Linked DNA regions of Homo sapiens. The protein of the gene in region 2 purifies or fractionates together with the protein of the main gene of each other region. This does not show direct contact. Each region holds a gene or a part of one and is shown on either strand. Other genes may lie near its edges.

What was found.
Region 1: the proteins of TMPRSS3 (region 2) and LRIG3 purify together in Homo sapiens (affinity purification with mass spectrometry; 2 studies listed by BioGRID and IntAct, with this or other methods). This does not show direct contact.
Region 3: the proteins of TMPRSS3 (region 2) and ALG9 purify together in Homo sapiens (affinity purification with mass spectrometry; 2 studies listed by BioGRID and IntAct, with this or other methods). This does not show direct contact.
Region 4: the proteins of TMPRSS3 (region 2) and KIAA0319L purify together in Homo sapiens (affinity purification with mass spectrometry; 2 studies listed by BioGRID and IntAct, with this or other methods). This does not show direct contact.
Region 5: the proteins of TMPRSS3 (region 2) and NETO2 purify together in Homo sapiens (affinity purification with mass spectrometry; 2 studies listed by BioGRID and IntAct, with this or other methods). This does not show direct contact.
Region 6: the proteins of TMPRSS3 (region 2) and PPP1R15B purify together in Homo sapiens (affinity purification with mass spectrometry; 2 studies listed by BioGRID and IntAct, with this or other methods). This does not show direct contact.
Region 7: the proteins of TMPRSS3 (region 2) and PDZD8 purify together in Homo sapiens (affinity purification with mass spectrometry; 2 studies listed by BioGRID and IntAct, with this or other methods). This does not show direct contact.

What each region holds. Positions count from the first base shown.
Region 1 is NC_000012.12:58,878,434-58,882,795, reverse strand, and holds part of LRIG3 (leucine-rich repeats and immunoglobulin-like domains protein 3 isoform 2 precursor), read left to right. Parts: intron 1-1,894; coding exon 1,895-2,215; intron 2,216-2,317; coding exon of another isoform or gene 2,318-2,388; exon of another isoform or gene 2,389-2,523; intron 2,524-3,690; coding exon 3,691-3,972; intron 3,973-4,362. UniProt on the Homo sapiens protein: May play a role in craniofacial and inner ear morphogenesis during embryonic development. May act within the otic vesicle epithelium to control formation of the lateral semicircular canal in the inner ear, possibly by restricting the expression of NTN1.
Region 2 is NC_000021.9:42,385,833-42,389,750, reverse strand, and holds part of TMPRSS3 (transmembrane protease serine 3), read left to right. Parts: intron 1-601; exon of another isoform or gene 602-705; coding exon 706-822; intron 823-1,224; coding exon 1,225-1,348; intron 1,349-3,918. UniProt on the Homo sapiens protein: Probable serine protease that plays a role in hearing. Acts as a permissive factor for cochlear hair cell survival and activation at the onset of hearing and is required for saccular hair cell survival. Activates ENaC (in vitro).
Region 3 is NC_000011.10:111,861,344-111,865,705, reverse strand, and holds part of ALG9 (alpha-1,2-mannosyltransferase ALG9), read left to right. Parts: intron 1-454; coding exon 455-525; intron 526-1,007; exon of another isoform or gene 1,008-1,513; intron 1,514-4,362. UniProt on the Homo sapiens protein: Mannosyltransferase that operates in the biosynthetic pathway of dolichol-linked oligosaccharides, the glycan precursors employed in protein asparagine (N)-glycosylation.
Region 4 is NC_000001.11:35,452,263-35,456,624, reverse strand, and holds part of KIAA0319L (dyslexia-associated protein KIAA0319-like protein), read left to right. Parts: intron 1-383; coding exon 384-612; intron 613-2,139; coding exon 2,140-2,263; intron 2,264-2,935; coding exon 2,936-3,068; intron 3,069-4,362.
Region 5 is NC_000016.10:47,126,408-47,130,769, reverse strand, and holds part of NETO2 (neuropilin and tolloid-like protein 2 isoform 1 precursor), read left to right. Parts: intron 1-1,405; coding exon 1,406-1,546; intron 1,547-2,196; coding exon 2,197-2,445; intron 2,446-4,362. UniProt on the Homo sapiens protein: Accessory subunit of neuronal kainate-sensitive glutamate receptors, GRIK2 and GRIK3.
Region 6 is NC_000001.11:204,408,927-204,413,995, reverse strand, and holds the start of PPP1R15B (protein phosphatase 1 regulatory subunit 15B), read left to right. Parts: upstream 1-2,178; 5' UTR 2,179-2,584; coding exon 2,585-4,504; intron 4,505-5,069. UniProt on the Homo sapiens protein: Maintains low levels of EIF2S1 phosphorylation in unstressed cells by promoting its dephosphorylation by PP1.
Region 7 is NC_000010.11:117,288,063-117,292,424, forward strand, and holds part of PDZD8 (PDZ domain-containing protein 8), read right to left. Parts: intron 2,287-4,362; coding exon 2,124-2,286; intron 1-2,123. UniProt on the Homo sapiens protein: Molecular tethering protein that connects endoplasmic reticulum and mitochondria membranes. PDZD8-dependent endoplasmic reticulum-mitochondria membrane tethering is essential for endoplasmic reticulum-mitochondria Ca(2+) transfer.

The DNA.
Region 1 (4,362 bases), on a different chromosome or scaffold from region 2:
TTGAATAGATTTATGATCTCTTTATAAAGCTTTTATTTCTGCTGAGGTAGAGGAAAATGGGTCTATAGTTTGCTGATTATTTTAATTTCACAGATGGGAAAGAGAGTTTTCTAAAATTGCTTCATCTTTGTTTTGGCATCAGGATGGTGCGGTGGAATGAGAATGAAATTGGATCTTGGGAGAATGGAAGGGTAATCTCAGCCCTTCTACTTAACTTAAATTCCCTAAATATTAGTCTCTGCATCCATGAAATGGGGACTCTCCTTTCTTCTCTTCCCAACTCTGAGGCTTGTTGGGAGGTTTACATGAAAGAGAAAATTATTAATGATTTATGGGGTGCTAAAAAATTAACTATTGGTCGGTAAAACATTTACAAGTAATAGGAAATGTGAATTTATTATAAATAATTTTAAGGTCCATTGTTTTAGCATCCAAGAATCTCAGCATTAGAAATCTAGTTACCTGAACTTTACATAGCTAGTTAGTAGCAGATCTGGATTTAAAAGAAAAGTTTTCATCTCTGGTGTAACTTTCTGTCTATTACATGATGCTGCCATTTACTATTAGCTGCCATGGAGACCTCTGTAAAAATAAATATGTTTTATAAACCAATAAATCAGAATTTGCTTTTATTTAAGCATGGGTGTTAAAATATTAAGAACCTTCTTTTGCATTGGCATTTAAAAATTTACTTAAAACTGCTTTGTCCACGATATATATTTTTAGGTTGCAGCATTAAGCAGTGCCAGTAGTTTCTGGAAATAAAACCTCTGATGTAGCTTTTGGAACTGAATAAGCTTTTGGCATTCATCTGTAAGGGCCTGAACTGCTCCTTTCCCATGGTCCTTGTTTCATAGTTTTTTAGTCCCAAGATCTGATCCCCCTATTACGTTGAAACACATGTATAGTATCCATCGTTTTTTTCACTTCCTTGTGAATCTGAACATCGATTTATTAGATGAGAATTTCAGAATAGTACAGAAAACACCTCGATTACAATATGCAGACATTGAAAAATAGCAGCCCTGGAGTTATCAAAGCATCCCCTATAACCCATTCAATACACATAAAAAGTTGTCTTTTCAAATAGTAGCACCCAAATGGTACGCTTTGGTAGATCTCAGATGTTTCCTTCTGGGTTTAGATCATGGCTGAGAAACTGAAGTTCAAAAAGGTAACTTTTCCAAAATGTAACAGAGAACTAAAAATAACTGTTAGAATGAAAGAGTTGCTTAGCTCTAATTATAATGTAGCTTTGACAGGGCAGCGCGGCGGCACGATTGGCCGCTCAAAGCTCCAGGCTGAAGCCAGTGTCTTACAGTTTGTTTTACAGATGCTTTTTCTTTTGCTATCAGCTTTTTTTTTTTTTTTTTTTGCCTCTACCTAAATTACTGTTTTTAAATAGTGGTTCTGTTTTGGTAAATGAAGTGTTAATGGCTGTCTTTGTTGATTAATCATGATTGATGTTTGATTTCCTAATTTTGCTGCTCATTATCTGGGGAGAACATGGGAACAATTGCAGTTTCTGATAGTAGCATTCAAAAATGATCCCTGAGCCTGGAAGTTTTTAAACTGCTTTCTTCTTCTACTTATAGAAAGCATAAGGGATCAGGAATAAAGTGTGGGTTTTCCGATAGCTCCAAAATAACAGTCTTTTCTCAGGTAATAGTGATTGATAAATAGATCTGCATCTGTATTCGAGATGAATGAGTTACTTTATAAATACTCTCCCAGTGTATCATTTCAACATGGGGACGGCTAGTCCATCTGGAAAACATACACAAAGGGTAAAACCTAAGCCACTGTTTTTGCATTTCTTGGTGTTCAAATTTGAGTAGTATTTGGACTCTTGAGCCTTAACATTGTTTTGTCTCCTCCTCTCCATTTTTAACAGATGATTTTCCCAAACCCCAGATCACGGTTCAGCCAGAAACACAGTCGGCAATAAAAGGTTCCAATTTGAGTTTCATCTGCTCAGCTGCCAGCAGCAGTGATTCCCCAATGACTTTTGCTTGGAAAAAAGACAATGAACTACTGCATGATGCTGAAATGGAAAATTATGCACACCTCCGGGCCCAAGGTGGCGAGGTGATGGAGTATACCACCATCCTTCGGCTGCGCGAGGTGGAATTTGCCAGTGAGGGGAAATATCAGTGTGTCATCTCCAATCACTTTGGTTCATCCTACTCTGTCAAAGCCAAGCTTACAGTAAATAGTATGTGATCTGACTTTTCCTTTAGCATTTAAAGATACCTTTTAGAAATAGAAAGCACCTGTTTTTCTCTCTTAATCTTAACCCTGTCTTTTCTTCTCACAGTTCCCCACCTGACTCTTCCTTTCCCTACCTTTCATTCCACAAAATTAAGATTCTTGGTTATTTGTATCTAAACCTGCAATTATGTTGAAGACGACACCGTACTCAGTGTGGTGAGTAACACAGAGATGAACCAGACATGTTTTTGCTCTTTTTTTTTTCTTTTTCTTTTTTTTTTTTTTGAGACGGAATCTTGCACTGTCACCCAAGGCTGGATGACATCCTGGTTGCAATCTTGGCTCACTGCAACCTCCACCTCCCAGATTCAAGCAATTCTCCTACCTCAGCCTCCTGAGTAGCTGGGATTACAGGCGTGCGCCACCATGCCCGGCCAATTTTTTGTATTTTTAGTAGAGACGGGGTTTCACTATATTGGTCAGGCTGGTCTCGAACGCCTGACCTTGTGATCTGCCCACCTTGGCCTCACAAAGTGCTGGCTGGGATTACAGGTGTGAGCCACCGTGCCCAGCAATGTTTTCCTCTTTGAGAGTTTACAGTGTAGTATACTGATCTGGAAGGCTGCAAAGCATCATGCTGGATGCACACTGCCTTTAATTCAGAGATCTGTGTGTGAATCCTGCCACTCCTGCGTGATTTTCAGCAGGTTGCTTCACTTCTCCGCCTCCAGTTCCACATCTTTCAATTAGGGATAATAGGACCTGCCCCCTAGAGGCATTATGCTCATTTAGTGAAATAATATGTGTAAAGGATGTAGCAAAATGGCTACAAGGTAGTGCTCAGTAAATGCACTGTTAGCCACTGTTAACAGAAGTCTATTCTTGTTTGCTTTGTGTGGTAGGTATACAGTTTTACAGTAGGATCCTTGCCACTTTATCATTTAACTATCTGTATCTGCCGTGGTAGAAGATTTTGAATATGATTCATTAATGCATTCACTCAGCAAATGATGGCTGTGGCCTGGCACATAGAACAGTTTTGAGTTTAAATTGTAGGGCAAAACATGTATCTTAAAAGTCACAGAATGTTAGAGCTACCAGGAGAGACTTTAAAAAAAAAATAGATGAAGTGAGTGGTCAGGGTACAAAGAGATTAATTGATACACCCAAGATCTCACAGTTGATTGTTGAGGAAACTAAAAAGTGGCAGAAAATAGCAGGAAGACCTTCATTCTGAGAATCAGATGACCTCTGTTTTATCCTGACTTCATTGTTTCTGTATCTGTAACCTTGAGCAAGCCTTTTAATCTTTCCATCTCAACTTTAGTTTCCTTGACTTGAAATTGGAATTAACCCCTGCCCAATCTATGTCAGGGACAATCTGTAAGTATCAAACAAACAAACAAATAATAAAAAGGAATGCAAGTGAACCTGTAAGACTCCACTGTGCTAATGCCTATATTGTTTCTCTGATTTCAGTGCTTCCCTCATTCACCAAGACCCCCATGGATCTCACCATCCGAGCTGGGGCCATGGCACGCTTGGAGTGTGCTGCTGTGGGGCACCCAGCCCCCCAGATAGCCTGGCAGAAGGATGGGGGCACAGACTTCCCAGCTGCACGGGAGAGACGCATGCATGTGATGCCCGAGGATGACGTGTTCTTTATCGTGGATGTGAAGATAGAGGACATTGGGGTATACAGCTGCACAGCTCAGAACAGTGCAGGAAGTATTTCAGCAAATGCAACTCTGACTGTCCTAGGTGGGTGAATTTGTTAAGATTCTGTAGTATAAATCAGTCTTGAAGATACTAGCTCATCCAAGGTCCCTAAGTATCAGAAGTTGTGAGAGTAAGAGATGAAGATGTATGGGGCATTGCCTTTTCCTAGAAAGTATTAATGCAAATGGCCTCTTGAACACTTTGAAGTCAGGGATTGCATGACATCCTCAAGTCTGGCCACTGAGGTGAATCCCTGCCCCCTCCATCCTGAAGAGAGGGGCCGAGGAAAAGTTGGGATGCTTTCCCTTTTATGGGGGATCACCCTCCTCTAATTTCCCCACTGTGCTGTCTATATCAGTAGTCTTAACACCATAAAGAACATTAAAAAAAAATGTGGGAACAAATTGGGAAGGCCTTACTCTCTTTTCTCAG
Region 2 (3,918 bases):
TCTGGGGTGCCGCAAGGGCTGCTGGCCATGCTCATGGCTTTGTCACCAAGGAACCTGCCCGGTTAGGAGTGGCCAAAGGCAGCTGATGAAATAGAATCCTGCAGGTGGGAGGGAGGCACTGACCGGGGCAGCGGGGAGAAGACAAAGAGACCTATTCATGCAATGCAGGCGCACCAGCTGTTTTTACAATAAGGTGCATGTGGCTTTTGAGAAAGTGGGTCATTTGGATGGAGGGTCTCTAATAGGGAACAATTTTTCTTTCAAATACCTGAATCACAGGTCAGTTCAATTCGCCACCTGCCCCACTGTGTGGTCCACACTTCGTTCACTTTCTGCCTTCGGTAAGAGAAACCAGGAAGGCCGAGCAGTTCTCAGTCAGGACTCCTTGCTCGGCTGGCTCAGCAGGTCGGCCCCCCGCCATGCAGTTTCTCTCTTGACCTTGAGACCTCCAGAGTCTAAATTCACCTTGCACTGTGGTTCCTGGGCCAGGCCACATAGCGAGATAAAGTGGGGCACAGCAGCCCCACCCCTTGGAATTCAAAACAGAAACTGGGCTGCAGGAAACAGGCTGCTGACAGGGACGCAATTTCAATACAGGTTTCATTATTCACGGGCCAGCTCCGCACTGTGTGGCAGGGGGACAGTTGTTAGTGTTGCACTCTGAAAGAGCTGTTGGTTAATTCCTGCCTTCCTCCCTTTTCCCAGTCCACTTCGACTGCTCAGGGAAGTACAGATGTCGCTCATCCTTTAAGTGTATCGAGCTGATAGCTCGATGTGACGGAGTCTCGGATTGCAAAGACGGGGAGGACGAGTACCGCTGTGGTAAGGTCATGGCTCTTCCCCTGGGGAAACAGAAGGAAGCAGCAGAAGCCAACCCTGACCCTTCCCATCTGTAAAATGGGTCCAAGTCATTGCCATTTTTAGGTCATGTCTTCAGCTGGGATTGAACTGGCGTTTGCCCAAAGACATGTTGGGCTGGGGGGTCAGGGAGGGCCTTCCATGGAGCTCTGGCTCTCTTGGGGAGACCACATAAGCAATAAGATGAGACCAGCGAGAAGTCTCAGGGATCCAGAGTCACTGCTCTGTGATGGGGAGGCTGCCGTGGACAAGAAGTGGGTCAGATTTGGCAGAGGAGGGGTTTGAGCTGGCTGTGGAGAAACCCCTGCCTATGGTCTCAGGGTTCCACTGGCCACTAATAAGCCTTTCTTTCTGCACATCGGCCAGTCCGGGTGGGTGGTCAGAATGCCGTGCTCCAGGTGTTCACAGCTGCTTCGTGGAAGACCATGTGCTCCGATGACTGGAAGGGTCACTACGCAAATGTTGCCTGTGCCCAACTGGGTTTCCCAAGGTAAGTTAAAGAGCATTTCCAACCCATGGGCAAAACACAGAGAGGATAACAATAAAGAAAGACAACTACCATTTAGTTGGGCACTATTGGGTGCTTTAACGCTCTCAGATTACATCCTCACATCCACCTTAGGATGCCCGATATCATCCTCACTTCACAGGCAAGCAAACCAAGGCCAGACAGGCTAAGTGACTTGCTCAAGGCACATGGGAAGTGGCATGTTTGGGGGTTCCCAGGGCCAGGCCAGGATCGGAGATACGAACATGCAATAAAAAGTTTCAAAGTAGAAAACAAAAACAAAACCAAAAAACCCTCCAGCTCCTCAGCTTGCAGCTCCTAGAGTAGCTTCCTGGACACTTTCCTGCTTGGTCCTGGCGGTCACATCAATGTCCATGCACGCTTCCCCAAGAACCCCACAGAACCAATTGTTGAAAGTCAGAAATTTAGTGAAGACACAATCATCCAAAACACTTGTTTAGCAACATGTAGAACAAAGAACTATAACAGTTGACTATTCACTTTTTAGTGTTTGTGTTGCCTACATGATTTTTTGCATTGGAGTGACACAGTTTTGGCCTAGGCATGGGCCTCCTTCTCTCCCCTGGCCCCTTCCTTCTGACTTCCTGCGGCCGCTGTACTTCCACGGGTTCCCCTAGCAGCCTCCTTACTCCCCTTTGCTCTCAAGTCTCAGCACTCAAAGCAGGCAGGCTGCATTCTGCTTTGCACTCAAGTAGATGGGGTCGTTAAAGCCACACTGCCCTGAGTCCTCCACAGAGTCTCAGTTTTCAAATTCCATGAATCATATTCTCGGCTGTCTTTCCCCAAAGCTGGTGGAAGCCAAAATGCCCTCCAGCCTCCAGCCCTGAGGTCTGCCTCCCTCTCCCTCCACACCAACTGAGATTCAGAAATGAGCTGCAATTCAAGTTCAATGAGAAGAGCAAAAATCATCCACACTAACGTCTTCAGGAATGATGTATTACTCCTTAGAGACAAGGAGGAAGAGGTACACACACACACACACACACACACACTGCACACAGCTGAGAGCTTCCCCATTGGGCATTTCTCTTCCCCGCTGAGCCTCTTCCTCTGACTCATTGGGTGGGGGGTGTTGGGGGGCCTCCTTTTCTCTTCTCTCTGCCCTCCTCCTCTGTCCTGGAGGACCACCGCTCTGTCTGAGCAAACCCCAAGGCCTCTCTGCTCTGTTATGCAGAAAAACTCAGCTCAATCCCTCTCCTTCCCCACCCAGCAGACCCAAGTCAGGAGCCCCAGCTGTCCCAGGCATCAGGTAGAGGCCACTCATGGTGGGGGTAGCCTTCCCGTCTCTCTTCCACCCCAGCCCGTTTGGTAAAATATTCCTTCTCATCCTTAATATGCTCCCTCTACAAGGAAATCCAGGGAATGCGATGTCCCCCATCTCTCACCCCAATATTGCCTACTTTCTTCTCTATAGGCTTGTTCTTTTGTTCTCTATCCATTGCTTCAGTTTCTAAGATTTATTTCTGCATTTTGTTCTATTTTCTTAAATTCTCCTTAAAATCCTTCTTTAATCTTCTCTGCTCTACTACATCCTATGTCAGAGATCTGTGATTCAAAAATAAATAAATAAATAAATAAATAAATAACCAAAGGACGGTCAAGCTAGATTGCTTGGGTTCAAATCCCAGTGTAGACTCAGGCAAGTTCCACACACAGTTCATGCCTCAGTTTCCTTTCTTAGAAAAGAGGGATGATAATAGCACGTACTTGGAGGGGAACTGAAGTTCCGCTGACGCTGTGAGTGTGGAAGGGCTTGGTGGGCAAGAGCACACTGGGCGAGTGTGTGGTTGTGGCTGTCATTGTTACCATTTTGAGACTTGGACAGTTCATGGGGCTCCAGTTGCAGCACTGGGGTCCCCTTGCCTGGCACAAGCCCCGCCACCTGCACTGGGGCCAAGCCATCCCAGCAACCATCGGCTCTTTCATGCCAGTGCCAGCGGAATCCGTGCATTGAGCAATCCCTGGAAGGGCTGCGAAGGTCGTGCCCGCCGCCTTGATTACATTTTCCTCAAAACTCAAAGTTGACTGAACTTTGTATTCTACATACACACCCCCATAGCATTTACAGTAAGCTGAAGAAATCCTGTTGATAAGCTGGTGTGTTCACTATGAAAACAAGCCTACTGTACTGTGTTTTGTTCATTTCACAAGGGAAGGAGAACATGGCTGTTTATTCACCATCTTCCATCTTGTGACTCTCCAAACATGTGATTCTTCTTTAAAAAGTTGCATCACTTTCACCACTGTTCTCCAGAAGACCTGTGTCCTGGCACTGTAAAAATGAGCTGGGCTCTGGTGTTCGTGGAATCGCTTTCTTGTTTGTGTTCATCTCTTTCCAGTGGGGCTCTGCGCTGGTCCTGGGCAGGTGAGGGATGTCTCTCCTGTTCCTCCAACTCACTGTTCTTGGAGAACTTGGTGTCCCTGCTTGGGTGCCCCCCGACAATACTGCACCTAGTTTTGTGCTCACCTCCCCTCTGGACTTGCTTCAGGCCAAGCAAAAGGCATTTCACTGGAATGCGCAAAGAGTGACT
Region 3 (4,362 bases), on a different chromosome or scaffold from region 2:
TCTCTTAATATTTTGTCATAATCACTACCTGATATATTATGGTTGTTGAAGAATTGCTTGTTGAATGAGCATTATATTGCAAGAATGTTTTCACTATCTTTGTAAACATAAATTTTAATAGCTGTATAATTGTCCATGAGCTAGATGTAGCCTAGTTTATTTAATCATTTCCCTATAATTGGATATTTTGTAGTTTTTGAAACAGTTTTTACTAAAACTGCAATTAACATTTTCATGAATGGAGCTCTACCTCCCAACCCCCACCAGCTGGAGTGATAGAAGTAGGTATACTGATATTGAGTCAAGGGATATGAAAATTCTTGATCCATGTTGCTTTTCAAAAGAATTATACCAATTTACAGTGTTATTGACAATAAATGAGAGTGGTTCATGTTTATGAGTTTTTCTAGCTCATATCTGTGACTTCTGTTTTCTTTTTCTGGGTTTCTTTTAGATTCTTGTGTTTTACTTTTTGCGATGTCTTCTGGCTTTTGTGAGCTGTATTTGTGAACTTTACTTTTACAAGTGAGTATAAAAACTTTGCTTCTAAAAGTGCTGTGAGGAAACCCATTATTGCATAGATTATCTGTTGTGATAGTCTAGGCAGTGATTAGAAATAGAAAACTCTTGACCGGGTGCGGTGGCTCACACCTGTAATCCCAGCACTTTGGGAGGCCAAGGCGGGCAGATCACCTGAGGTAGAGAGTTTGAGACCAGCCTGACCAACATGGAGAAACCCCATCTCTACTAAAAATACAAAATTAGCCGGTTGTGGTGGTGCATGCCTGTAATCCCAGCTACTCGGGAGGCTGAGGCAGGAGAGTCACTTGAACTTGGGAGGTGGAGGTTGTGGTGAGCTGAGATTGTGCCATTGCACTCCAGCCTGGGCGATAAGAGCAAAACTCCATCTCAAAAAAAAAAGAGAAAGAAGTAGAAAACACTTTCCTCCTAGCTCCTGATATATATATCATATACATATTTTTTTTTCTGGGAAAGAAAACTTTTTTTTTCATACTGAGTTTTATTGTATGCTGCTGCCAGTGTGGATAAAACAGTTACCCTTGTGAAATAGAAATTCATGAAATTCAGAGAGGTAGATGTTAAAGACTGATGAAACTAGAAGTTCGTATATTACAGCACATGTGCTACAGGGATAAGCTTTTGTACAGGCTTCAAATTTAGCTCTCTTTTGAATATCCACTGGATCATAAGAAGTGGTTTGGGAAACTTTTGAAATTCATTTTACTACAAAAAAGAACAGATTTTCTGGGGTCTGAAGGGATTTGTACTTGAAGATACTCTAGTCAGCAGAGGGTCATGTTGAACATTCTGCAGACAGAATTGTTTGAAGTCTGCAGCTGCCTGGGAAACTTTTATGCAGTTGAGCCTGGCCTCCAGCCGGGGCTGTTGAACCACTTTCTTCATAGCGGCAACGCTGGAGGAGCCAGACATGGTGCACGTGAGGGCCGGGCCAGTTCGTGGGTTGGTGGGTCGTGGGTCAGCGGGGCCTGACTGAAAACTTCTTGCTTTTATTTATTGTTCTCTTCTTTTTCTTTTTTTAATTTTTATTTTTCAATAGTTTTTGGGGTACAGGTGGGTTTTGGTTACATGGATAAGTTCTTTAGTGGTGATTTCTGAGATTTTGATGCACCCATCACCTGTAGCTCCTGATATTAAATCTGAAGTGTGACTTCTCGTTTGAAACCAACAGTTGAAGGGAACACTGTACTTCTAATTATCGTTTTCTTTCCTGAGGTCATAAATACCATATCCTTATATCATTCATTTTAATTCTGTTAAAAACTATCTAACTGGTCTTTACTTGATAGGATTTAGTAGAACCCTATTTTCGGTCCTAAGATACAGGATCATGATTTGCCTCTGCCCTACAGCTTAGTTGATAATAAACTACTCCCGGTGTGGGATATCACTGCTCTTGTTTGCACCCAATATATTGTCTTTCACAAAGTACCTATTAGTTGATTGAATATTAGTTGGGACTATTAAGCATTTAAGTGTCCCGGTAATAAATATAGCCACCTTTTTTACATGATAACTAACAAACGTCTTGTTTTAATAATGCTTTAGTAATATATTTAAAGGTATTTGGACTTAGTGATCATTATTTAAAATCTTCCCACAGCTAAAAATGTCAGATTTTAAAAAATGTTTGGCCTTGACTGTGAGTGGAGTGGAGGGAAAAAAAGTAAAGCTAGTGCTGCCTTTGAGGATTGTAACCGTAAATTCCGTAAATTGGTCTTTATATGGGTTTGGGCCTGAATTCAGATCACCTATGTGGTCCTTCAAGCCCTAAGCTGAGAATTTACTTTAATATATTTTATTTATTTTATTTTATTTTTGAGACTGTCACCCAGGCTGGAGTGCAGTGGCATGATTTCGGCTCACTGCAACCTCAGCCTCCCGGGTTCAAGCAATTCTGCCATCTCAGTCTCCTGAGTAGCTGGGATTACAGGTGCAAACCACCACGCCTGGCTAATTTTTTGTACCTTTAGTAGAGATGGGGTTTCACCGTGTCTTGGTCTCCTGACTTCGTGATCTGCCCGCCTCGGCCTCCCAAAGTGCTGGGATTACAGGTGTGAGCCACCAGGCCCAGCCGAGAATTTATTTTAAATTGTTCTGGGTTGGTAGTGCCCGTGGCATCTGGCAAAAAATTTCTCTAGAGAAATGGACCCTTAACCCAAGTGTCTGAAAATTACCAGAGATAAAGTTCTAGTGAACAAGAAATTATAATAAAAATAAATCAGAGCACAGAGGGAGCAAAACATTATGGGTGAGAATCAGCAGAAATAACAGTCAACAGAACGTTCACCTGAAAAACTTCATTTATTGGGAAATAGGAATATAATGTAAGTATATTTAACATTTTCAAACAAGTAAAAGAACCAAAAACATGAACAAGAAACAAGAGATGACCAAATAAATTTAAAAAATTCAGAACTTATAAGAATCATATAATATGTAATATTATATAATATGAATAATATGTATATAATATTTATATTTAAGACTCAGTAGATAAACAGCAGATTAGACATTCTGATGAGTAAACTAGTAAATTGGAAGATTGATTTAAATAAATTACTCAAAATGCAGTACAGACAGACCAAAAAAAAAAGGTAATATAGAAAAGGTTAAGAAATGTGTAAGCCACGGCTGGGCACGGTGTTTTATGCCTGTAATCCCAGCACTTAGGGAGGCCGAGGCAGGTGGATCACTTGAGGTCAGGAGTTCGAAACCAGCCTGGCCAACATGGCGAAACCTCATCTCTACTAAAAATACAAAAATTAGCCAGGTGTGGTGGCACATGCCTATAGCCCCAGCTACTTGGGTGGTAGAGGCACGAGAATCACTTGAACTCAAGAGACGGAAATTGCAGTGAGCCAAGATCACCCCATTGCACTCCAGCCTGGGCAAGTGAGACTCTCTCTAAAAAAAAAAAAAAAAAGAAAAAAAAGAAACATGTAAGCCAGAGTTGAAAGAACTGACATACATCTAATCAGATTGTAGAAGGAGATGATAGAATGCGGAGAGGCAATATTCGGGGTATTAATAGCTGAGAATTTTCTAGAAATGATGGGAAAAAAAGATGCTAATCCATGGATTTAGTAAACCTAACATATCCCAAGCTAGATACATAAAAAATTAGTGTAGTGAAACTGTGTAAGACAATAGAGACAAAGAGAAAGATTTTAAAAATTGTCAGAGAACTAATAGAATACCTGCAAAGGAGTGTTAGGCAATTACACTGACAGAAGACTTTTTAACAGCCAGAAGACCAAAAAAGAATATCTTCAAAGTCCTGAGAGAAAATAACTTTCATCCTAAAATTGTATATTAGGTTAAGCCATCTTTTAAGACCAAGAGCTAAATACAGACTTTTCAGTTTAAAAAAAAAAGAGAAAGGGAAAAAAAAAGGAAGAAGCCTGTAATCCCAGTGCTTTGGGAGACTTAGGCAGGAGGATCATTGAGGATTGCTTGAGCTCAGGAATTTGAGATCAGCCTGGGCAACATAGCAAGACCTCATCTCTACAAAAAATTAGCTGGATGTGATGGCACATGCCTGTAGTCACAGTTACTCCTAGCCATTCAGGAGGCTGAGGCAGGAGGTTCCATTGAACACTGGAGTTCAAGGATACAGTGAGCTATGACCATGCCACTGCACTCCAGCCTGAGCGACAGAGAGTATGACTCTATCTCGGAGTGGGAGGAGGAGGGGAAGAAAGGAAACGAAAGGAAACCAACCAACCAAAAAAACGGAATTTATCATTAACAGATTCTTATTGAAATAACTTCTAAAAGAGGTACTTAGGAAAAAGCAAAATTATTTCAGAAAGAAGCTCT
Region 4 (4,362 bases), on a different chromosome or scaffold from region 2:
GGCCAGGCTGGTCTCAAACTTCCAACCTCAGGTGATCCGCACGCCTTGGCCTCCCAAAGTGCTGGGATTACAGGTGTGTGCCAACGCACCTGGCCTCTCTGTCTTTCTCCTCATATATGTGAGGAGTAAAATGAGGATGATACTTTATAGAATTGTTGTGAGGATTTAATGAGATATAAAGAACTTGGAGCAGTGCCTAGCACATCATAAAACTTCAGTCAGTGTTAGCTTCTAGTAGTACTTTCTGCTTCTCCAATAGAAGTGGGTAAGAATAGGTAACCTTGCCACATTGGTATTTCTTAGCCTTAATTTTCAGTCTTCTAGTGTTTATTCCTCTTTCCTTAAACCCGTCCCTGATCACACTCCTCTCTCTGCCCTGATAGCTTGACTGTAGTAGACTCTGATGGAGCTACCAACTCTACTACTGCAAACCTGACAGTGAACAAAGCTGTGGATTACCCCCCTGTGGCCAACGCAGGCCCCAACCAAGTGATCACCCTGCCCCAAAACTCCATCACCCTCTTTGGGAACCAGAGCACTGATGATCATGGCATCACCAGCTATGAGTGGTCACTCAGCCCAAGCAGCAAAGGGAAAGTGGTGGAGATGCAGGTAGGAGGGAATGGTTCCTATTTTTTCTTGCCCAAGAGAAGTAGAGCTGCTGGACTGCATTTTTAGAAACCTCCAAACAAACTGAGAAAGCTTTAGGGGCCTTTGATTAACGTGGTAGCAAAAATCTTTATCTTGGCCGGGTATGGTGGCTCACGCCTGTAATCCCAGCACTTTGGGAAGCTGAGGCGGGCGGATCATGAGGTCAGGAGTTCGAGACCAGCCTGGCCAACATTGTGAAACCCCGTCTCTACTAAAGATAAAAAAATTAGCCGGGCGTAGTGGCGTGCGCCTGTAATCCCAGCTACTTGGGAGGCTGAGGCAGGAGAATCCCTTGAACCTAGGAGGCGGAGGTTGCAGTGAGCCGAGATCACGCCATTGCACTCCAGCCTGGGTGACAGAGCAAGACTCCATCTCAAAAAAAAAAAAAAAAAAAAAAAAATTATCTTAAATGTTTAGTATTAGAGGAAAAGGCTGAGAAATGTTAGTTGTTCTGGATGACTCCAGAGAGTCAAACTATTTAGAAGCTACAAGGGTGCAAATCTTAGTGAGCTCTATAACAAGTTAGAGTAGATTGGCTAGATGGTGAGTATCTTCTCTCTAGAGATGCTTAAGAAGAGAGACTAGATCTGTCACCAGGCAGGTAACATAAAGAAAGAAAACTGGATGGTGGCTGTGCTGAACTTAAGCCCTGACTAAAGGAGTCATCTACTCTTCAGGTCCAGCTGGTTGTTGCCACATGGAAGGATGGTCCTAACATTGCTTGATAACCCAGCTTTTCAAGAGAAGAAAGAAATTGAGACCTTTATGTGAAAATTTCCAATATGAGAGACACCACAGGCCAAAAAAAATATTTGCAAGCTGGATTCAGCCCATGGGCTACTAGTTTTTGCCTACTGCTCTACAGGAAGTTCCTGCATTGGAAGTTTGCCCAAAATTATTTATAATGTCCCTCAAGATTCTATATTTCTCAGTTTTAAGGCCTCCCTTAAAGCCTCCATTTTACCTGACTTTTGTTTAAATGTTATGTTAGGTTGTTGCAGAACCTGTACAGACCTGAAGGAGACAGTATGGTGTTATACAGCATCTTGAGCTGCTGCCATGTTTCACTGAGACAGCTTTGTTAGGAGCACTGTGTAGCTTCAGTAGGAAGAGGATCTTTTTAAACAGTGTTTTTAAAACTGGGTCATTTATTGTTTGTTCACGGTATTCTTTCTGGTTTGAGTCATAGAGACTGGCCTTGGTAATCTCTGCACATTTCCCAATACTGCCCTCTCTTATGAGAGTTCTGGCTTTATTTGAAACTGCTGCTGTGTCAGAGAGGGTTGTTTCCTTGAAGGGGGAAACCCTTAGCAAGGTGCCTCATGATATCTGACTCCATATTCACTCACATGCTGAACTGGTACGTAATAGCCCAGTACCATCTTAGGTCTTTGGTTTAGAAAACTAAATCGTTTTTACCAGAGTCGGAATTATTGTGTGATGTGATTCCTGGAGTCCACTTTTCCACTTCTGTATTTGTATTTGTAGGGTGTTAGAACACCAACCTTACAGCTCTCTGCGATGCAAGAAGGAGACTACACTTACCAGCTCACAGTGACTGACACAATAGGACAGCAGGCCACTGCTCAAGTGACTGTTATTGTGCAACCTGGTAAGCTCCAGCCTTGTGGTTCAGGCTCTTCTATTGGTGGGTCCATTTAACCTTGGGGGAAAAGAGTGTTGGGTTCTGAGCTGTATGAGGGTAGAAGCAGAAGGCACCGATCCATAGAGCCTCTGGTGACTTCTATTGTTCCTTCCCCTTGTGCTTTCTTCATAGCTAGAGATGAAGGATACTTCCCAGCCTCAGCTTGTGCCCTTCCCTTGGCTTGTTGTTGGTACCTTCAAAGAGACCTAGGAAATAGAGTTTATGCCATCCCAAATCCTAAAAAGTAATTGCGGTTTTTGCCATTCCTTTCAATAGCAATTACTTTTGCACCAACCCAATACCACGTCCTTGAAGGGCCTGCTTAAAACTGACTTCCTCAGGACAGCCCTGTCTTGTCACTCAAATCCTTTCATTTGAACTCCCTTAGCATTAGAGTTCAAGTTTAGTATGGCATTATAACTTCATTATGTTCTATGTTTCTGTCAGAATTGCTTGATATGTTTCAGCCTTATATTCTTTATTGTGTGCTCCCTGACGGTAACCACATCTCCCACAGTATCTGACAGTTCTGTGGCCTGAGAGGCAGAGTCCATGGCTTCCAGAACATGTGTCCCAATTGGTTCCTCTCCTTTCCCACCTGGACTGGCTGCTTTTGACCTCTAACTCTTTGTCTTCCAGAAAACAATAAGCCTCCTCAGGCAGATGCAGGCCCAGATAAAGAGCTGACCCTTCCTGTGGATAGCACAACCCTGGATGGCAGCAAGAGCTCAGATGATCAGAAAATTATCTCATATCTCTGGGAAAAAACACAGTGAGTATTGACACAAAATCCTTATTTTTGCAAAGCCTCCAGACCTTGGAAGAGCAAGGTTTTATTTGCTATTATGAGTTGAGTTGCTCTTATTGGCTTATCCAGTGGGGTGACTGAGGAAGAAATGTTTGCAATTCCAAACTTCAACTCCAAGAAAATGATATTATAATCATAATTTTTGTAAGAAAAAAAGAATGCTTGCCATCAACTAGTCCCCAGGTAGTACTGTGTGATCCTGGTGCTTTTTCAGGTACAATCCATCTGCTGAAATGCAGAGTTTAATTACACTTGAGAGGCAGGATGGAAGGGGTAATGGAGCAGAAAAATACTGTTGCTCAGAATTAACTGGGTAAGGCTGGCACGGGGGATGGGGCAGAGCAGCTATTAAGAGAAATTGAAAATACATCCATAAAATGAAAGCATTACTCTGTTATTGTTTTCTTGAAGACACCATTTACCAATTAAGTTAGCCAGAGGCCAAAGGCGGTAATCAAAATAATTCTAATTACATAGAAATTACCTAACTGAACCATTCTTAGTTCCTGTAGTTTCTTTTAGCTCCTTTAAAGCATAACTAATGCAACTGAAATTATATGCAGGATCCCACAAGTAGCAAAAGAATTCTAAGAAGAGTTAAAAGTATTCTCTGTTTCCAAAGGTAGCAACCATAGGACAGCCTGGGTTTTTTTTTGTATTGTGTTTGTTTGTTTGTTTGTTTGTTTGTTTGTTTGACAAAGGCATTGGAGATGGGTGGAAAAGAACTTTAATTTGACTATACAAATGACTTGCTTTTGAGATTGCTGAGTTGGAATCTAGAAATTATTTCCCTCAGCTCTTGTTTTTATCTTTTGTAGAACATAATCTTACCCAGCCCAGGGTGTTTTTAATTATAATTGTTTATTGAAGATATGGCTGATAGACCTTTTAGCTGAGTTTTATTAGTGTTTACAGCAGAGATAATGCTTAGCATAGCTTCTTGAAGGAGACTGTGCTTCAGGAGGAGCTACCAGGATCAGAGGCTGTAACTTTAAAAGGCAAAACAAAGTAAATCCTGGATGTCTGCAGATTTCTCTGGCTTTCCTGTAGTTAAAAGCTCTGGGGCATTTTGATCCTTGAGCAGAGGGCTCTCTGGCTGTGTGCAGCCTGAATGTTGGCACAGAGCTCCCTTGGCTGCTGCAGGCAAGTCTCTGAGGCCACAAGGGGGAAGAAGGGTTGTAGGGTGTCCTAGGTGCTTGATGGCCCCTGTCCAGGAGCTGGAGGGAACTTTGCTTATAGAGTTGCTACAAACAAGATG
Region 5 (4,362 bases), on a different chromosome or scaffold from region 2:
GGTATATTCCAGTAAAACTTTATTTACAGCAGGCTCCAGGTCATGTTTGGCCCAGGGTCATAGTTTGCTGAACTCTGCTCTAAATGTTCTGCTGATTTTTTCATCTCTTCTGTTTTTGGAAGCTTTTTTGGTTCTGTTTTCTGAATATAATATTGTTTGTACAGTATCTTTGTTTTTGTCTTATAGATTTACTTGCTTTTCTTTCTCAGGATATTAAATGATTGTTTTGTGGTGGTGGTGGTTTTTAAATATTTTTCTTGCATAGTCTTTATCTCCTCAGAGTTGCTTTTCTCCAGTTTTATTATTATTATTATTTATTTATTTATTTATATTAGAGATTTTCCTCCAATGTCTGGTGATCCTTGAGGGCTCATATTTTAAGAGGGGCACTAAAAACTGATCGTTAACTGTCTGCAGGTGTGGGCAAGGATCAGTTACTGGCTCTCACTGTTGACAGATCTGACACTGGGGAACTCCTGCATCTGCATCAAGCCTTTCCTAGGGGCTGTTTCGACTCCCAGAGAAGAATCTTTTCTTTTCCTGCTTAAAGGCTCAATATCTGACCAGGAGGCCTTTGTGGGAGTTAAGCAGGAAACGAAGGCTGGGACATGTGCTAACATTCACTCGTCTCCCTGTTTTCGTTCTCAACTGTTCCTGGTGTCCCCTAGTCCAGTAACCCTGTTGTTTTACCTTCTCCAAAGAAATCACCTTTAGTGTTCTGATGTGGTTGTAGAGCTGCTAGATTTGTGGAGGAGGAAAGGGTACTGAAAATCCAACTCATTCTAAACAGACTTTTAACTAGCCTCGTGTTTTTAAAAAGCCCAATTTCACTCACCACCCCCAACCCCACTTCCTGGTACTGCCAGTTGTTACTGCTATATCTACCCCTCTCTGTTTAAGAGTTTATACCCTTTTAAAAATCCTTTTATTGCTGTTTAAGTGGAGTTTGAGGAAGGAGCTCAGCTACGTGCATGTATTTAGTCTACAGTCTTCAACTAAAATCCCTCTAACCTTTGAATCATCTTTTACTGTTGTGTTAAACTAAGTTTGAGGGCCCCATATCAGAGATCAGCTCCTGGGATGCCTTTATTTTTAGGTTAGAACTGAATTGTATTGCATCTTACTGACTTAGCAGATTCCCCCATATGGTTTTGCCCTTTGTTAAGTGCCTATAAGCCCTTTATTTCCCTGTTCTCTTACACGGCAAACTTGTCCTCTCCCAGCAAGTTTTCCCTCCCTCTCTTTCACTTCTGTACTCAATTTATTGTGCTAAATTTGACAGTGGTTCTTAGAAAATTTTATATATGTAGCATAGAGTGAGCAATCGTTTGGAAAGTGGTGGGGGAAAGAGAAGAATGATTCTCTTTTGCTGTAATGAGTGTTTTAAATGCCGTTTTTCCCTAAGATGGACAAAATATTGGAATCAAGCATATTCCTGCAACCCAGTGTGGCATTTGGGTTCGAACCAGCAATGGAGGTCATTTTGCTTCGCCAAATTATCCTGACTCATATCCACCAAACAAGGAGTGTATCTACATTTTGGAAGGTATTTGAACGATTTCTTTTATTGGATGAATTTTTACTTTATTGTAAAACTAAATATGTTGGTAAAATGACCTATGTAAACCAGTTTGAATGAAATTTAAACATGTATTTGAATTAAACTGTAGTAATGATAAGTATTTCTGCATATTGAATACATTAACAAGATACTAGCAGAAATGTTAGGGGAAGTTTGAATCTCCCAAAGTATAATTCAACTACGTACATTAGTATGTATGAAAAACTTCTTTCTCTGATAAGAAACTTAAACTTACTGGCATCCCTTATAAGGCTTAATTCAAATTTATGTCCACATAAGTGAGTTCTTTTCATTTCTTCTGTTTATTTTTCTGTGTATTGTGGTACGTTGTATCTTGAACTAAGTATTAGCTTCTTGACTCTTCAGTTTGAATCACTCAAAAATATTTAATTTAGTAGATAGCATATGCCAATGGAAAAGATTACTATAGTTCTACAGAGTAGCATTATTTTTAATGTAAGATACATTTATCATGACTTGTATAGCAATTCTCACTAAGACCTTTGTCTATGAAGCAGTTAGCAGAACAGTTATTCTGCTTTTCTCATTTGTGTCAATACATTTATATTCTTTCTTGTTTGTGTTGTCCTGATTTGCTTACTCTTATTTTCTAGCTGCTCCACGTCAAAGAATAGAGTTGACCTTTGATGAACATTATTATATAGAACCATCATTTGAGTGTCGGTTTGATCACTTGGAAGTTCGAGATGGGCCATTTGGTTTCTCTCCTCTTATAGATCGTTACTGTGGCGTGAAAAGCCCTCCATTAATTAGATCAACAGGGAGATTCATGTGGATTAAGTTTAGTTCTGATGAAGAGCTTGAAGGACTGGGATTTCGAGCAAAATATTCATTTATTCCAGGTAAAGAATAAGTTATCTTTTAAGTGGTTGGGCATCTCACTCTAACTCTGATTTTAGAATCTTAAGGTTAGAAAAGAGATTAATTTGGTCAAGTTAATCAAATCAAGATTTTAAACAAATTAGCAAAGTCAAAGGGAAATTAGTCCATGAACAAATAAGAAGTTAATAGAAATTGGACATAGAAACGTATCACTTGAATTTTGAAGCATATCAGAGATGGTGCCACATTTTCTTAGATTTTTTTCTGTCTTATAGCACATGCTCAGGCTAACATTTAAAATACATTTAAAAATAAATAATTTTAAAAATAATTCAACAAATTGTCTTGTTTTCAGAATTCCCACAAAAATTGTTTTGTATGATTTTTCTCATTTAGCTGTTAGAATTAACCACTCAACTGAATGAATACTCTAGAATATATTGAGCAATAGAAAGAATACTGCTCTGCACTTGGATGTCAAAGATCTGGGTTTGAATTCTTTCTCTGCCTCCTAATAGCTGTAAGACGATTAAGCACAGAATTATGTTTGAGATTGGCCATTAGTAAAATGGGAATGCCTGCTGTGTTAGTTTATTGATGCTGCCATAACTAATTACCTCAAATTTGGCCACTTCAGACAGCAGAAACTGATTTTCTTGCCGTTGGGGAGACCAGAAGTCCAAAATTGAGCAGGGCCTCACTCCCTCTAGGAACCTGGGGGAGAATCCGGTCTTTGCTCCTTCCAGCCTCCAGTGCATGCCCCAGCATTGCTGGGCTGTGGCTGCATCACCTCAGTCTCAGCCTCCCTCTTCACAGCTCTTTCTACTCTTTTCAAGATCCTTAACCTAATGGCATCTTTTGTCTTGTAATATTTACTCTTTTAAAAAACTATATGTGTGTGTGTGTGTGTATAGATACATATATAAGTGCACCCTACTACTCACAGGTTATGGGGAATCCAATGTGTGTATATTGGGGGGCTACTGTACCATCAGCCTGCTCCACCGTGTTACCTGCCCCACAGTAGGTGAGAACACTCTGAGAACTGTAAAGCCCTGTCCAGTATGGCGTGTACATATCCCTAATGCAGAAACAGATGTGCAAGTTATTGTTCCTGTCTTCACCAAGCTTACACACTAACAAGATGAAAAAATAACAGTAAGACAACTGCATGATCTTTTTGCTTTTATTTTTCGTGCAAGAAATTTAATTGGAAAAAATTAAAACATTGAAATGAAAAGAAAATATCCATAATCCTTCCACCCTGTATATAAAATCAGTGTGAACAATTTGGTGTATATCCCTTCCAGTGTTTTTCTATATCTGTTTCTTTTGTTTGTTACACAAGATTGGGATTATGGTACACATATAACTTTATTATCTGCTTTTTTGCCTGAAAAACAGATGTTTGCCTGTTAGTACTTATGTAGGAAATTTTAAGCTTGGCTTCAGTGTTTATCTGCTCTTTTTAAAAATTTTTTTCTATATTCTCCATAGCCAACCAAGTATTTATTTGCACAATACCAAAAGGATATTTCCAAAAAGTAAACATTGTCTAATAGACTTTATTTTTTAGAACAGTTTTAGGTTCACAGCAAAATTACACAGGAAGTAGAGTTACCATAAGCCTCCTGCCTCCCTTTCCATCAGCATCTTGCACGAGAGTGGTGCATTTGTTACTAATGATGAGCCAACATCCATGCATCATTATCACCCAAAGCCTGTAGTTGACATTAGGGTTCACTCGCAGTAGGGTGTGCTCTGTGAGTTTTGACAAATGCATGATGACATGTATCCGCCCTTACAGAACCATACAGAACAGTCCCACTGCTCTAACAGTGCCCCGTGCTCTGCCTGTTGGTCCCTCCCTTTCCCCAAACCACTGGCAATCGCTGATCTCTTCAGTATCTCCCTAGTCTTGCTATTTCCAGAATGTC
Region 6 (5,069 bases), on a different chromosome or scaffold from region 2:
ACAGGATAAACAACAGAAACTGAGGTCCTCTTGGCTTCCTAGAAAGAAGTGGTTGTGCCGAACGTGGTGGCTCACGCCTGTAATCCCAGCACTTTGGGAGGCTGAGGCGGGCAGATCACAAGGTCAGGAAATTGAGACCATCCTGGCTAACATGGTGAAACTCCGTCTCTACTAAAAATACAAAAATTAGCCGGGCGTGGTGGCATGTGCCTGTAGTCCTAGCTACTAGGGAGGCTGAGGCAGGATAATAGTTTGAACCCAGGAAGGCGGAGGTTGCAGTGAGCAGAGATCACACCACTGCACTATATCCTGGGCAACAGAGCGAGACTCGTCTCAAAAAAGAAAAAAAGAAGTGGTTGTTCCTTGAACAGGCCCAGTAAGGCAGGAGGAGCTGCTGGTCTCCTCCCAGCTCCCTAAAGATTTTTCTGCTGTCCCTAGTGCTCATAACTGCCACCCTCCCTCTGTAATTGGTACTTGACTTCAGGGGTATCTATTACAGAGTTTTAGCAGAAATAAAGAAATGAACTAAGACCAAACTCACAAGAGATAATCAAATACAGCAATTAAAATTACCAGCCATTTTTTTTTTCAAAGGATAGTGGTCCATGTTTCCTTTTTGGCTGTTGTATTCTGTGGTTCTGGTTGCTAAGGAAGTATTAATAAATATGAATTGAATATGTTGCCTGCTTGGAAGCATAAAAGAGAGTAAATAGTTCTGGGGACTGAGCTGCTTCTCTGTGAGTTTAGTTTGCCCCACACCAGACATGTATGTACGCAGCACTGCCCAACTTTTACATAAGATCTCAGGTTGATGGTCTACATAGTACTGAACAATAGGAGAACCCTGAAATATCTGTCAGGCTGGGCGCAGTGGCTCACGCCTGTAACCCCAGCACTTTAGGAGGCCGAGGCGGGCAGATCACTTGAGCTGAGTTTGAAACCAACCTGGGCAACACGACGAAACCCTGTCTCTATAAAAATATGCAAAAATTGGCCGAGCACGGTGGCTCACGCCTGTAATCCCAGCACTTTGGGAGGCTGAGGCGGGCGGATCACAAGGTCAGGAGATCGAGACCATCCTAGCCAACATGGTGAAACCCTGTCTCTACTAAAAATACAAAAAATTAACTGGGCGTGGTGGCACACGCCTGTAGTACCAGCTACTAGGGAGGCTGGGGCAGGAGAATCGCTTGAACCCGGGAGGCGGAGGTTGCAGTGAGCCGAGATTGCGCCACTGCACTCCAGCCTGGCGACAGAGTGGGAATCCGTCTCAAAAAAAAAAAAAATTTAGCTGGGCGTGGTGGTGCGAGCCTGTAGTCCCAGCTCCTCGGGAGGCTGAGGTGGGAGGCTCACTGGAGCCCAGGAGGTTGAGGCTGCAGTGAGCCGAGATCGCACTACTGCACTCCAGCCTGGGCGACAGAGCTAGACCCTGTCTCAAATAAATAAATAATAAAAATCTAAGACTACGATAACCCTACAGTTGGCCCGCGGGGCATTCAACCTTCCATGGATTGAAAATATTCGGGAAAAATAAAGATAATAAAACATAATACAAATAAATACAGTATAACAACTAGTTCCATAGCACTTGCATTGTATTAGGTATTATACTTAATCTAGGGGATGGTTTAAATATCTGGGAAGGTGTATGCAGGTTATATGCAAACACTATACCATTTTACATAAGGGACTTGACCGTCTGCGGATTCTGGTGTCTACGGGGTCCTGGAACTAATCCCCATTTCATGAGAGGGGATGACTGTACACACGTCAGTGTGTATTAGGCCATCAAAACGCCTCCGGGAAATTCTCGGGTTATTTTGAAAACCCCTCCCCTCCCCAAGACCTTTAACCTAGAGGGCTGTTGGGGCGGTCTCCTAGGAGACCACACAGAAACGACTGCGCATGCGTGCATTCCCCCCCCCCCCCCCCCCCCCCCCCCCGCCCCGGCTGATGCAACCTCACGCTGCCGTGCGGCTCTACCTCGAGTAAGGAAGCCGACAGGGAAATCTGGCAAAACCAATCGGCGGCCACACGGAAGTGGGCGGAAAGGCCCGCCCCCCGGGGATTTTGCGAGTGACGTTGGGCGGCGCGGCGCTAGGGACGTAGACGCCCAACAGTCCTGCGTCTCTTCCGGCGTCTAGGGGGGTGTCCTGCCGGCGCGCGGGCCCTGCGGCCATTTTGGGCTTCGCTTCCACCGCACCAGCCGGCCTACCCAGTCCTTCCGGTATCGCGTTGCTCAGGGGCTTTTCAACCCTCTGTCAGTCGGAAAACCATCGCCGAGGCCGTGGGGGGACTCCTATCCATGGTGTTGAAGCGTCGAGCCGACTAGGGAACCTCCTTCCCCGCCAGGATGGAAGTCGCATCAGTCGCCGCCTATTGCGCGGGCTGTTCTTCCCTGTGTTCTGCCGCCCGCTGCCGCATTCGCTGCCCTCTGTGGCTTTTCTGCTGGCTCGAAGATCGGCCTGGAGCAGCGACGCCACCGCTGGGCAAGGCCGAGACTCTGTAGGCTTCCTCCGAATCCCGTCGACCTCCAGCCGCTGAGCGCCGCGGCCCTACCTGAGAGACTGTCAAGAAAAAGGAGATGGAGCCGGGGACAGGCGGATCGCGGAAACGGCTTGGCCCTCGGGCGGGCTTCCGGTTCTGGCCACCCTTTTTCCCTCGGCGATCGCAAGCAGGCTCTTCTAAGTTCCCGACGCCTCTTGGCCCGGAAAACTCCGGGAACCCCACACTGCTTTCCTCTGCCCAGCCCGAGACTCGGGTCAGTTACTGGACGAAACTGCTCTCCCAGCTCCTTGCGCCGCTCCCCGGATTGCTTCAGAAGGTGCTAATTTGGAGCCAACTTTTCGGTGGAATGTTTCCGACCAGATGGCTAGATTTTGCTGGAGTCTACAGCGCCCTGAGAGCCCTGAAGGGACGGGAGAAACCAGCCGCCCCCACAGCGCAGAAATCTTTGAGTTCGCTGCAGCTCGACTCCTCAGACCCCTCGGTCACCAGTCCCCTTGATTGGCTAGAGGAGGGGATCCACTGGCAATACTCGCCCCCAGACCTAAAATTGGAGCTTAAGGCCAAGGGAAGTGCTTTGGACCCTGCAGCACAGGCTTTTCTCTTAGAGCAGCAGCTGTGGGGAGTGGAGCTGTTGCCCAGTAGCCTTCAATCCCGTCTGTACTCTAACCGGGAACTTGGCTCTTCGCCCTCTGGGCCTCTAAACATTCAACGCATAGACAATTTCAGTGTGGTATCCTATTTGCTGAACCCTTCCTACCTGGACTGCTTTCCTAGGCTAGAAGTCAGCTATCAGAACAGTGATGGAAATAGCGAGGTAGTCGGCTTCCAGACACTAACCCCAGAGAGCAGCTGCCTGAGAGAGGACCATTGTCATCCCCAGCCGCTGAGTGCAGAACTCATTCCGGCCTCGTGGCAGGGATGTCCACCTCTTTCTACGGAAGGCCTACCAGAAATTCACCATCTTCGCATGAAACGGCTGGAATTCCTTCAACAGGCTAGCAAGGGGCAAGATTTACCCACCCCTGACCAGGATAATGGCTACCACAGCCTGGAGGAGGAACACAGCCTTCTCCGGATGGATCCAAAACACTGCAGAGATAACCCAACACAGTTTGTTCCTGCTGCTGGAGACATTCCTGGAAACACCCAGGAATCCACTGAAGAAAAAATAGAATTATTAACTACAGAGGTTCCACTTGCTTTGGAAGAAGAGAGCCCTTCTGAGGGCTGTCCATCTAGTGAGATACCTATGGAAAAGGAGCCTGGAGAGGGCCGAATAAGTGTAGTTGATTACTCATACCTAGAAGGTGACCTTCCCATTTCTGCCAGACCAGCTTGTAGTAACAAACTGATAGATTATATTTTGGGAGGTGCATCCAGTGACCTGGAAACAAGTTCTGATCCAGAAGGTGAGGATTGGGATGAGGAAGCTGAGGATGATGGTTTTGATAGTGATAGCTCACTGTCAGACTCAGACCTTGAACAAGACCCTGAAGGGCTTCACCTTTGGAACTCTTTCTGCAGTGTAGATCCTTATAATCCCCAGAACTTTACAGCAACAATTCAGACTGCTGCCAGAATTGTTCCTGAAGAGCCTTCTGATTCAGAGAAGGATTTGTCTGGCAAGTCTGATCTAGAGAATTCCTCCCAGTCTGGAAGCCTTCCTGAGACCCCTGAGCATAGTTCTGGGGAGGAAGATGACTGGGAATCTAGTGCAGATGAAGCAGAGAGTCTCAAACTGTGGAACTCATTCTGTAATTCTGATGACCCCTACAACCCTTTAAATTTTAAGGCTCCTTTTCAAACATCAGGGGAAAATGAGAAAGGCTGTCGTGACTCAAAGACCCCATCTGAGTCCATTGTGGCCATTTCTGAGTGTCACACCTTACTTTCTTGTAAGGTGCAGCTGTTGGGGAGCCAAGAAAGTGAATGTCCAGACTCGGTACAGCGTGACGTTCTTTCTGGAGGAAGACACACACATGTCAAAAGAAAAAAGGTTTGTTTCTTGTCTTTTAACATGCCTGATATGTTCTGACTGTTTTTATATGCTTAAATATAGCAGCATGACTTTGGAGGCTTAGGAGTGCATGTATTTTTGAGGAAGGCCTCTAAATTCATATACTTGGATTGAGAAATATGTAAATGACCCTTCTCCTCCTGTCCCTCACCCCCCACCCCAATGCACATTGTTGCTGTCCAAAACGAACATACCAGTGTGTAGATGTTAGCAGGAAAGTGCCATTTTTATTTGGGTTGGTAGTTCTGGACTGTTTCCTTACAAGCTTCAATTTTTCACACTTTTTAACGGACTATTAAACTTTGTGTGTACACGATTTAATTTTTCTAGAGATTGAAAAGGTCCTGTTACAGCCATAGAGTTTTAAAATGATTTTAAATGTATGTTGTCTGCAAATACTTAATATTTTTTTTGCATATAACAAGAGTGTCTTCATTCCTGTCCATTACAACCCAAAGGGATGATGATATCAAGTAGCAAGTCAGATTTATCTGGTCCAATTGGCCATGAAATTAAATAGTAATTTCACTGGTTTTGACATTAC
Region 7 (4,362 bases), on a different chromosome or scaffold from region 2:
TGCAACTCTCTCTCAGGAATACACCATTCAAGTCTGGATTTTTCTTTTGGAATATTTCAAACACACTCAAAAGCTGAGGAAACAGTAAAATGAATTCCATTTTGAGCTTCAAATATAATATTTTGCCAATCTTATTTCAACTATCATCAATTATATACCCATATAAATGAATCAAAGCGATATAAAAATGTTTTGAAAAATATCTGTTGACATGGGGAAAGTTTACAACATGCTAAAAGAAATAAAGACTATTACAAAAATGCATAGTTTAGAAATTTTTGTTTCCTAAACAAAAATTGGGAAAGGCATATATTTATGTACAGAAAAAAACAAACAAACAAAAAAACAAAAAAAGAGACATACAAAAGCTTTTCTGTTATGTTCCAAGGTTTTTCTTTTTTTTAAAACAATGAATGTGTATTGTATCTGCCCTTCATCTTAATACATATTATTATTATTATTTGAGATGGAGTTTCGCTCTTGTTGCCCAGGCTGGAGTGCAATGGTATGATCTCAGCTCACTGCAACCTCTGCCTCCCAGGTTCAAGCAATTCTCCTGCCTCAGCCTCCTGAGTAGCTGGGATTACAGGCGCCTGCCACCATGCCCAGCTAATTTTCATATTTTCAGTAGAGATGGGTTTCACCATGTTGGCCAGGCTGGTCTCGAACTCCTGACCTCAGGTGATCCACCCGCCTCGGCCTCCCAAAGTGCTGGGATTACAGGCATGAGCCACTGAGCCCGGCCTGTTGTTATTGTAATTAACAAATGTTAGATGTCAAGGGATGACTTTTGCTTTTTCACTCTGTATACATTTATATCGCTTAGGTTAATTAATTTATTTTTGATAATAGGTATTTACTACTTGTGTAATTGAAACACAACCCCCAAAAAAGACCGAAAAAATTAATTTTATCCTGTAGCTAAAACCAAAATATTAAATGATATTAATATAATGAATGATGTCTATTTTATGCCTCCCTAAGTGTTTATGCATAAGCATCATCATTTGGGAGGAGTCTGTGAGAAATGAAGAATCTTGGGCCTCACTACAGGTCTCCTGATTCAGAATGCACATTTTAACATCAGGTCTGGGTGACTGGCATACATGGGAAAGTCTGAGAAGCACTGCTTATGCCATGATCAGAGATTCCCATGTGAAAATATTGACTTAATTGGGCTCCCAGATATGCAACTAAATAATTTTCATTATTTTATTGTCAAGGTGGATTTGAATCAAAGGCAGAGTTTCTTTGACATGTAACCAAGGACAACTGCACCTTGATTTGGGAACTGTTCTAACTTATTTATTGTCTAAGCTGTGAAAGAAAATATCACATTGCCCTTTTCAGATCAACTGTGACCAACCATATGTTCAAGAAATCTCTCAACAAGCCTAGAATAGATGGGACAGGTACTACAAAGGTTGAAAAGGCTTGGACTTTCCCCTCACTGCTGTGCACAGTGAGTCCTACTGCTTAGACATTTATATACAAGCAAATAACCTGCTATCTTCAGAGAGTTTTTACTGTTAACAATCCAAGTGATAGGAAGGCATGTAAGTGACACATTTTTCCACCAGTGATTTGGGCTGAATTCTGAGCAACAACATACTAACAAATGGCTGGCCATTTAGATGACACAGGATCACAGGACAGTTCAGATGTGCCCTCCTGGAAAAGGAATGTTGGTTCTTCTGCTCATCATCTAGTGCTAAGTGATGGGGGCAGTAGTGCTAATACTACCAATTTTAGGTTCAGAGTAGCAATGGTGGTAGTCGTACAGAAAGATAACCTGTTTATTTGCCCTTACTTTCACATTCAAGAAAAAATAAATAGAGTAGTAGAAGGTGGGAAGGGAAGGATTAGAGTGGTTATATAAAAGTGGTCTAAACAAAGTATTTTAAAGATTTATACACTAGAACTAAAATGGCATGTATGTTTTAAATGTATTTTGAAGGCCTCCTTTGAATTTTTATTTATAATAAAGTTTATTACTTTATTTCCATTATAAAAGTGACATATGCATATTATAGAAATAAGGAAAAAGGAAGAAAGGAAAAACCTCACACCTACTTTGTAGTTTATCTGTAAAGGTAAAGTATAATGCATATTAGCATAATTACCTCCAATGGCGATAAGTCGATCTCCCCGCTGAAGATCTGCAATTGCAGCAGGCGAGTTTGGAGCCACAGTTTCAATGATGACGTGCCCAGCATACCCATCAGTTGACTGGACAAGACGAAGTGTAAGTCCAACACTTTGTAAATTTCCTTTTATTAATTCAACCTTTGATAAAGGGGAAAAAAATGAAAACTGATTCAATGGATTCCTAGTAATAGAGGAAAAAAACAGTAACAGACTGTTATGTGCAGAGAGCACCATGGCTGATGCTGACTTTTCTATCATGGCAAATAAAGGAAGGAGAAAATCTTTACTGTAACAATATAAATTAACTATCCTTAGGCTACACATTTAAATCATCAAAAAAATTAAACACTTTATCTTCAATGTGTTTTATTATTACTCCTTGCTCCATGCTCATTGTAGAAAATTGGGAAATAAACAGAAAGGCAAAATAAAAAGAAAACCATTCCTAATTATACAATCTAGAACTATTCTATATATTTTCTAATATATATTTAACACAAAATTGAGATTTGTCTCAATAATACTGAGACATAGTAGTCAATACAATTATAATCATGAATATAATTCTGAATCTTGCTTTTTTCAAATATAATGAAAATGATCTATGTCATTCATAATATGTGCTTTGGAAACTCCATTTTGTATGGTGTATCCTTTTTTTTTTTTTTTTTTTTTTTGAGACAGGGTCTCACTCTGTCACCTAGGCTGGAATGCAGTGGCACAATCCTGGCTCACTGCAACCTCCACCTCCCAGGCGCAAGTGATTCTCTCACCTCAGCCTCCCAAGCAGCTGGGACTACAGGCGTGCACCACTACGCCTGGCAAGTTTTTGTATTTTTTTGTGTAGAGATCGGGTTTCACCACTGTTGCCCAGGCTGGTCTCAAACTTCTGGGCTCAAGTGATCCGCCCACCTCAGCCTCCCAAAGTGCTAGGATTAAAGGCGTGAGCCATCCCACCCGGCCAGTGTATTCTTCAAGTTTCTTTTTTGGGAATAGGCAAAGGAAAAGAGTTTACATTTATACTTTATTAAGAGTTATCGGCCGGGCACAGTGGTTCACGCCTGTAATCCCAGCACTTGGGAGGCCGAGGTGGGCGGATCAGGAGGTCAGGAGATTAAGACAATCCTGGCTAACACGGTGAAACCCCGTCTCTACTAAAAATACAAAAAATTAGCCAGGCGTGGTGGCAGTGCCTGTAGTCCCAGCTACTCGGGAGCCTGAGGCAGGAGAATGGCATGAACCCGGGAGGCAGAGGTTGAAGTGAGCTGAGATCACACCACTGCACTCCAGCCCGGGCAACAAAGCGAGACTCCACCTCAGAAAAAAAAAAAGAGTTATCATGTGGTGGGGATGATGGGGATGGTGGTGCACACCTGTAATCGCAGCTACTAAGGAGGGCTGAGGTGGGAGGACCATTTGAGCCCAGGAGTTCAAGACCAACCTGGGCAACATGGTGAGACCCCATCTTTATTTAAAAAAAAAAAGTTACATTGTTAATGAGATGTCCTATTCTAACCCATCAAGATCATTTTGTTTTCTAAATAAACCTGCCATCCAATTTTCAGGAATGTGGATACTAGATTAACATCATCTGTGAATTAACAACAACATCATCATGCTATGTGTCCTCATTCAAACAACTGATTTAAAAAAAAAAAACAGGCAGAGTGCTACATCCCAGCTGTTGACAAGGATTCAATTAGTGTTTATGGCGCTCAATTACAAATCAGTCTAATTGTATTATTCTCCAGTCCACATTTCTTAAGTCCTATTCTTCAAGGATATCTCATGAGGGACTTTGCCAAATACCCTAATATCCAAATATATCACTGGCTGCACTGCTTTAATATATAAATCCCACTTGGACAGAAATTCAATTTTCCTACCTAATGATATTCGCTGGTAAAAGAACCCTCACTGGAAGTTGCTCTTTAATTTGGGTGTTAACAAATTTTGTAAAGTTATTTTAAGGAAAATCTTAATCATACTGTGCTCAAGAAATGGGATATGTGGTCAAATTCTGAATTACCTAAAGGTTTACAAAACACAAAGCCCCGCCAAAACACGTAATTTGTGTTTAAATCTCCTAAGACATTTGTCCAATCCCTGCCTTATGACACAGCAATTAATCACCTTACAATGTAAAGTGCTGTACACAATTAAGGCTTTTAACAAAACCCTTAACAACATATTCTCTCAAATCCAGGAACATAA